3 separate regions of the Homo sapiens genome follow, and regions 1 and 2 are each linked to region 3. The links come from fine-mapping of genetic effects on gene expression. A gene starts in region 3. Each other region holds a variant in brackets. All regions are shown on one strand. Distances are from middle to middle.

Evidence for each region. PIP is the estimated chance that this variant, and not a neighbour inherited with it, causes the effect.
Region 1: its variant is fine-mapped to the expression of CDCA7L in esophagus muscle (GTEx, PIP 0.93).
Region 2: its variant is fine-mapped to the expression of CDCA7L in blood mononuclear cells (TOPMed, PIP above 0.99).

What each region holds. Positions count from the first base shown.
Region 1 is chr7:21,900,981-21,903,779 of GRCh38, reverse strand. DNAH11 (dynein axonemal heavy chain 11) reads right to left here. Exons shown (of 82, transcript NM_001277115.2): 82 at 1,941-2,773. The coding sequence ends at 2,526. It overlaps CDCA7L (cell division cycle associated 7 like), which reads left to right. Exons shown (of 10, transcript NM_018719.5): 9 at 666-802; 10 at 1,428-2,799. The coding sequence ends at 1,458. Among named protein-coding and RNA genes, the nearest start is that of CDCA7L, 44 kb to the left of the region's middle. The variant AAGAT/T (reference allele first, on the strand shown) is at 1,533.
Region 2 is chr7:21,886,976-21,889,475 of GRCh38, reverse strand. All of the region lies in intron 76 of DNAH11 (dynein axonemal heavy chain 11), which reads right to left. Among named protein-coding and RNA genes, the nearest start is that of CDCA7L, 58 kb to the left of the region's middle. The variant G/T (reference allele first, on the strand shown) is at 1,015.
Region 3 is chr7:21,944,708-21,947,559 of GRCh38, reverse strand. It overlaps CDCA7L (cell division cycle associated 7 like), which reads left to right and starts at 1,661. Exons shown (of 10, transcript NM_018719.5): 1 at 1,661-1,779. The coding sequence starts at 1,756. RefSeq lists enhancers at 1,063-1,312, 997-1,707, 1,703-1,852 and a silencer at 1,993-2,042.

The DNA.
Region 1 (2,799 bases), 44 kb after region 3:
CAGGCTGAGAGGGAGGTGGAGATTGCAGTATAGAGTGCTCTCTGTGTGCCTGGCACTGTGCAAGCTGTCGCTCACTCTGTTACCATAAATTTGTTTAATCCCATGAAATAGGTGTATAACCTCTCTCAGCTCCCTCGGTAAAATGAGACATAGTATCATGGTGAGTAGGCACGACCTTGAGCCTGGGGCAGTCCTGCTCCCGAGTGTGACCTCTTAGGCAGCAGTCATGGGGTAAATATATGGTCCTCAACTGACAGACAAACAAACTGCTGCTCAGGTTAGTCATTCAACAATAAGCACACATTGAAAGGGCTGAAATTCATACCTTGATATTTTGGAAACCTTGTGCTCCTAAACCAGGGCTGACATCCTGGGCCTGTGACCTGCATGCTCGCACAGGGCCCTGTGCTTGGCCAAATGCTTGTGAAAATCTCCATAATTTTTAAGCAAGGAGCCCTAAAAGGTGTCATTTTTCAGTGTTTGCATGTGACGTGGGGTGATTCAGCCTTCCTGCCTTGTGAGGAGCCCCCTGGGACGTAGACTGAAAGATGCCATGTGATTAAAGGTTGGAGGAGAGGCCAGCTGAGCCATTCTGGATCCGAATCCCAGTTCTTGCCAGACCCTGTAGATAATGAGCGAAGTGTCTGCTGTCATCTCTCTGTTAGGATTGGGTGTGTCCCCCCTGTCGTGGGATCTGCAATTGCAGCTACTGTCGGAAGCGTGACGGCCGCTGTGCCACAGGAATCCTCATTCATCTGGCCAAGTTTTATGGTTATGACAATGTTAAGGAATATCTGGAGAGGTAAGTAAGTCTCTAGCAGCTTACAAAACAGCTTGAAATCTTGAGGCTGAGCACAGGAGACCCTCTGGGCAAGTAGTTGTTGCCTTCCCGTGTGACTTACTTACTTATATAAACCACGAGTACCATCCATTCTGTATCTGTTTGCATTGGAAAAGCTCAGGCCTGATATTTTCCCTATTAGGGAATCTTCTCCTTTGCTAGATTTTTCAACTCAACTCCACGTTGCCTTTAACCAAAATTTCTCCTTGAGGTGTATGACAGAAATGGAAGGAACAAACAAACAAGGCAGGCTGAGGGGAAAGACACAGATTATGAAGAGGCAGCCATAATCCTAGTGCAGAGAGAGAGTTCAGGGCAAGAGGACAGAATGTGAGTTACAAGTTTCATTTATGTAATTAATAAACTCTGAATCGTGGTTCTGGAATGCGGGAGTGAGGCAAGTCATGCTTGGGGCGTACTACACCAGAGGGTATACGGATATTGATGCATAAATTGTCAGGATTTCGAGTGTCAGGAGATCTGGGTTCTGGCTTTGTACTCTTAGATGATTGTGGAATCTCTCAAGCCTAGAATGCCATTTGTGTATTTGTACTACTTTACCAAATACTTCTCATCTTTTTCCCAGCTTACAAAAGGAGCTGGTAGAAGACAATTAAGAGGAAAACAAACAGAACCAGCCACCTCACCATAGAGTACTCCAACAAGACATGCATACCATTGGTGCCTAAGA[AAGAT/T]TTTTTTACAGTTGTGTTTTTATACAGAAATTCTTTGTAGAAATTACTATTTTTTGTTAAAGATTGTTTATATGCTTACAAAGATTTCTCAGGAAGACAGCAGAGCAGAGGAATCTATATAGATGTATGCACAGACCTGTCTGTATGCTGAACTTTGTTAAAAATATCTGCCAGTTATTAAAAAGCACAGTTTAAATGGGGTGGGGTTAAAGTTCAGGTAAGTAAGTTAGAGAGAAAACATTGTATGATCAGCTCCTGCACTTGATCTATCTATCTTTGGCTTCCCAAACAGTAACTCACTCCAGGCCAAGTGTGCCTTAGCACGAGTGACCACAGTTTAATAGACCACACACATCGTTTAACCTGCTCTTGGTCATTGGAAATTTACACTGAACAAAGTGCAATTAACTGTAGAACAGTTTTATTTTTATTAAAACTTGACTGAACAAAAGGGGACCATCAACATTGTAGACACTGGACACTGGAGGCCTTACAGAGTGCTAGCCTCTTCCTTCAGGACTCACCTGGGGCCTGCTGCTTTTATATTTTGAAAGAGTTTAAGGGCTAATAATTTAATTTGTTGTTTGTTAAAAATTAAAATCTCCGTTCTTTCCGGCTGCATTGCTTTTGCATGTTCACATATGATGTACTTTTATGATGTACTTTTTTTTTTTTGAGATGGAGTCTTGTTCTGTTGCCCAGGAGGGAGTGCAGTGGTGCAACCTCGGCTCACTGCAACCTTTGCCTCCTAGGTTCAAGTGATTCTCCTACCTCCTGAGTAACTGGGATTACAGTCGTGTGCCACCACGCTCAGCCCTGAGTTAGTTTCTAGTATTTTTTTCTGACTTTCACTCTAAGGATAGCGTTGAAAAAAGAATGCACGTGTGAGTTACTAAAAAGTTAGAATAATGTGCATGGGAACAGTGCAGCAACATGCTAGAAAATCCTCACTGCACTCCAGCAGAGGCTAGAGGAATGCCAGTGTTACCTTACGCTTCTAGAAGCAGAGCCACTCCAGCCAGAACCCATTTTGCAGTCTTCTCTTCGCTCTTCAGCCTGAAGGTCCAGATGTAGCTGGGGCCTCTCAGTTTGGTTCTATACACAGGGCACTCGTAGGTCTGTTTGGTTTCTTGTCTGTCCACGGGGGTGGCTTTTGCAAAGATGACCGGCATAGGGCATGCCAGCTCCTTGAGACGGGCTTCAACAATGGTTCCTGCTTGGGTGTCCCAGCGGGCGCCTATGGCAAAAACACAGCGGTTGCAA
Region 2 (2,500 bases), 58 kb after region 3:
ACAGTTTGGTGGTACTTGCAAATGATAAACATAGAGTTATCACTTGGCCCAGCAATTCCACTCCAAGGTACATATCCGAAAGAATTGAAAACATATGTCCACACAAAATTTGTACATAAAAGTTCATAGCAGCATTATTCATAATAGCCAAGAAGGAGAAACAACCCAAATGTCCACTGACAGATGAGATAAACAAAATGTGCTATGTCCATACAATGGAACATTATTCAGACTTAAAAGGAATTGAGTACTGATATATGCTACAGCATGGCTGAAGCTTGAAAACATTATGCCAAGTGAAAGAAGGCTACATATTGTATGAGTCCATTTTTAAAAATGCCCAGAACATGCAAATCTATAGAGACAGAAAATAGATTAGTAGCTGCCATGGGCTGGGGTATAGGGGAATATGGGGTGGGAAACAAATGGTGCCTGACTGCTAATGGCTGCAGGGTTTTTTTTTTTGGGTGGGTGGGGCGTGGGTAATAAACTGTTCTAAAACTTGTAATGGTTGCAGAATATACTAAAGACCTTTGAGTTGTATAATTTAAATTGGTAAATGTTACAGTGTGCAAATTATATCTTAGTAAAACCTTTTTTAAAAACAAAAAGAATCGATAGAATCATGCTCAGGCAGAAAGAACCTCCACATCATGAAAATATAATCAAAAATTTGGATGATATTTTCGGCCAGGCATGGTGGCTCATGCCTGTAATCCCAGCACTTTGGGAGGCCGAGGTGGGCAGATCATGAGGTCAGGAGTTCAAGACCAGCCTGACTAACATGGTGAAACCCCATCTCTACTAAAAATACGAAAATTAGCCCAGCGTGGTGGCACATGCCTGTAATCCCAGCTACTCAGGAGGCTGAGACAGGAGAATGACTTGAATCTGGAAGGTGGAGGTTGCAGTGAGCCGAGATCACACCACTGCACTCCAGCCTGGGCGACAGAACAAGGCTCTGTCTCAAAAAGAAAGAAAAAAAAAATTGAAATCATCTTTGTTGAAATCAGG[G/T]GCAGGCACAGTTATTAGAAACTGGAGAACCAGCATCCAGCCCACTATGTTGGACTCCATGAGATTATTGTCTTTTTTATATTTTCCTTTCTGGTATTTAACAAAAACCGACCCCCACTCCACTGCCTCTCCAAGTAGTGTTGGTAATGACAAGAAGCTCCAGTTCATTGTGAATTTAAACAAATGCATTTGCCCTTGGCCTTCTGGGTCAAAAATGCCATGGCCCCAAAGTGCTGTTAGGGATTTTTAGACATTACTCAAGATTGAATTATCATGGTGTCTTGAGAATGAAAAGGTACATTGGTGATTTTCTAGGCAATACCTTAATTTTATAAATGAATGAAGTGAGGCACAGGGAAGCCATGCACAAAGCCAGACAGCAAGTCAGTAGCAGAACCAGAACTCTGGTCTCCCGTATTGCCCGTGTTGTTCTCAGTGTTGGCCTGTACACCATCTACATACAAATACGAGTCATTGTTTTGGTGACCTGTGCTGCAAACAGCTCAGCACTCCAGCCAGGGCAGTATGGTGCAGAGAAAGACCAGCCTTTGGAGTCTGATTACGAGTTTAAATTCTGGTTCAGCTGCTTGACCTCTCTAAGCCTGAGGTTCTTTTTTGATTAAATGGAATAATACTTACTCTTCCAGATTATAGTGAGAAGAAATCATACATATAAAGTGTGTGGTAATGACCCTTGGCACAGAGCAGGTATTTACTAAAGGATTCCCATTGTTATCACAGATTAATGTATAGCCAAATATTAAATATATATAATGAAAATGTATACTTTATAATAAAAAGATTTCCCATTTATTAAGCATATTGTTCTAGCATTGTACCAAAGTTTAAACCTGACAGCAAACCTGTAAGTTGATCATTCTGGTTTTGTAGATTATGAAACCAAGGCTAAGAGAGGGTCAATTACATCATACGGCAAATACATAGAGGTACTTCAGTGTGAACCCAGGTGTTTTTTGTCTTTGTTTTTTACTTCAAACCCCAGATTCTTGTTATTCTATATTACTAAAATAGTTTGTATTATATGATAACTTTAAGGTGACCTGGTACCTTATTCTCTGAAAGTGATTTACTGTATTTCTTAATTAACGCTGCCAAATACATGCTTTATGTGAGAAGATGTTTTCTTTCTTGACTTTGGCCAGAGACCCTCTAAAGCCCACTGGAGAACTCTCTCTGAGAGCAAACTCATTTATTCAACAAGAAACTCACTGATCCTCCTAACAGCAAGATATCACTGAAAGCATTCTGATTCTTTGGATAAGAGCAGCAGAACTTTAAACCCCACACCATGAATGGGTTGCTTTTTGATCATGTTCCAATGCAACCAAAGACACTAATTTCCAAATATGTTAACCACTTGTGGGAAGTGGCAAAAAGATGTCCTGCAGATGAAGTGTTAGATCATGTTGCTAATCATATAAACAGCATAAACAGGAGAAACGTGCATGAGAACAAAATAACTGGG
Region 3 (2,852 bases):
GGTTTTCAGTTTGGCAGTCTGCTGCTGTCACTTAGTGGCAGGGTGGCAGGGATCTCTTAATGTATTTTCTTAGATTCTGTTTCCTTATTTTAAAAATGTGGACAATAAGGATCTGGAAGGATATTGAGAGGATTCAAGGAGATACTGCATGTGAAGGAAAACTCTAAAGCATAATAAAAATGAAGTGGCCATAATGAATAAATAACATTATCCAATAAAAACAAAACATTTTAAGTCACACAATGTTGTATTGGTTTTACTACCACCAGGAAGTGAGAACACTGAGGGCTGGAACATGAAAGCACATAACACATGTTGTTTGCTGAACTAACCAAAGGAAGGAAGGAAACCTTTTCCATGTTTTCTCTTCAAGCTTGAGTAAATGTTTGGCAAATTTCATTCACTCGTTCAATAAAGAAAAGATGAACGTCAGATCCTAAGCAGCTGAGAGGGGCTGCAGAAGGTCCTATGCGTACAGGATGCTCTACTGTAAACCTATGACCACGGTTCTAAATAGGTGTGCAACACTGTCCAGCAAACCTGCTGTGATTTCAGGACAACTTCATTTACCATTCTCCCCACTCTCTACTTCAACTCTCCCACAATTTCCACAAACTTAATTCCTCACTCTTCATATCTGAACTCTAAGAAGTATTCCCTGACCTCTATCAGATTGTCTTCCTATTTCACACCACCATTAATACCACTTGCCTTTTTTCTCATGGCATCATCGCTCCAAATTTACATTTATTTGCATCATCATTACATTTGTCATTGATAGTGGTATCAAATTAATATTAATTATAAATCTAATTTATAAAATTTACATCGTTATTACACTTATTTGCATCATTATTGTATTTATTTAGAATAATGCAATTAGGTTGGTAACTGGCTCTCAGGCTGTAAACTCCAACAGAGCAGGGGCCTGTTTTTGTTCACCCTTCTGTTCCTAGGACTAGCCCAGTGCCTGATGCTTAGTAGATGCCGGGGTCAATTCTGTTAAATTAGTCAGCATTCCTGACCTCTACAAACTCTTTGTCTGGTGGGTGTGGAGGCCTACTGTGTAATGGCCGTCTAAAGTTTCAGGCGGGTTTGCATCTGTCCACCTGGGCCTTGGTAAAGAAACCTGGGTTGCCTGTTCTGCAAAGTGAACCCTGTAGCAAATGTTTTGGGAGACAGAATCTTCCCAAAGAGAACCCTGCCCCGTTACAACAACAAAACAAAACAAGCCCCAAAGCCGCCCTACAATATTTGCCTGGATCAGAGACAGGGGTTGCAGCAGAAGCTCGCGCCCCAGGGCATGACCTGGAATAAACCCTGCCAAGTATCCAGCGCGCGTGCCAGCTGGAGGCTGCGCCGGGACAGCCCCCTCATTTCTCCCGCGCTAAACCCCGCCGGACGGCTCCACTCCCTCCCTCTGCTGCAGGGGGGAGCCCGGCGCCCTAACACTGGTAATTGCTCTTGCCGCGCCCAACTGCAGCCCCCTCTCGCGCCGCCTGCGAAGACAAGGTCAGTGGCCGCGAAGTTGGAACGTGATCGGAGCCACGAGGCCCAGTGAGGCGGCACCGAGGGGGCAGCGCAACGCGCTCCCCCTGTCCAGGGCGTCAAGTGCGCCCCTCCCGGGGCCCGCCTGTGCTCCGGGCGGAGCGCGCTAGCTGCTCGGGCGCGGGGCGTTCTTGGTGCGCCGGGCCGTGGTGAGTCCGGGCTCCCGTGGCCGCGTGCTGGGAGGAGACTGGAGCCCGGTTAGGAAGAATGGAGTTGGCGACTCGCTACCAGGTGAGGGTCCGGCCGCCCGCCGCCGTCCGGACGCACCCACAGTTTGACTTCCCTTTGCCACCCGGTCCTGCTGGCCTTGGGCTGGAAACGTGGCCCTTGGCTGCGGCACTGGGGATCTGGCGCGCCCAGCCGGTTGAGTGCCGGAGTGGGCGCGCCCTGCAGGTGTGCGCAGTGGGTCACGTTTGTGCTACGCGGACCACAGAGGCCGGTCGCCCCAGCACACAACCGCGCTCAGCCTGGCGCTCTGCTCAGTCTCGGGTGGCCGCCGGGGGTGCAGGCGGGGAGCTAGCGGGGCGCAGCGCCTGCGTTTGCAGCCCTCGTGAGACGGGGGAGGGGCTTTTTTTGTGCACTCCCCACACTTTCTCCGGGAATTGGCACAGAGATCAGGAAGCTTAAGAAAGTTGTAATTTTTTTTTTTTAACAGTCGATCGCCAGACCAGTCCAACTTGGATAATGGAGTTTAAAAATAATAACTTTAGTGTTTATTCTAGAACTTTTGTAAACGTTTTCAAGGAATTAGTAACCATTTGGGGGAAATGGTAACGTCATTGGGCCGAGTTAAACAAGCTGCAAGATCCCAAATCATATGCACAGCACGACCCCAATTACGCGTTAAGGGCCTAACTCGTCTTTAAAACTCATTAGCAAACACTTGAGTAAGTTCCCCCAAACGTTTCAGTGAGTAGTGGGAATGTGAACGTGACTTCAGTTTTCTCTTTTTACTTCTTAAAAGAGCTTTTCTCTACGTTATCGTAATGGAGATACATGTTTACTTAGAAGTAAGCAATAAAAACATTTTTCATAAGAACTAAAAATACAACCTTTAAAAAGGGAAACAAGCAGCCACGCCTCTGCTTGTGGGAGCACGGAGATGCTTTGTGCGAGGATTGTTTTTTTTTTTTTTTCCACTTGTTTTATTGAGAGTCGCGAGACTCACTGCTTCCACCTTGCTTCCGACTGGTGTTTACTTTCCTCCACCTGCGTGCCTGGCCCGGGAGAAGGGGAGGCGGGGCCGCCAGCGTTGGAAGGCGCAGAGTGCCCGGCGCCCGAGCCCAAACCGCTGTCACCTGCCC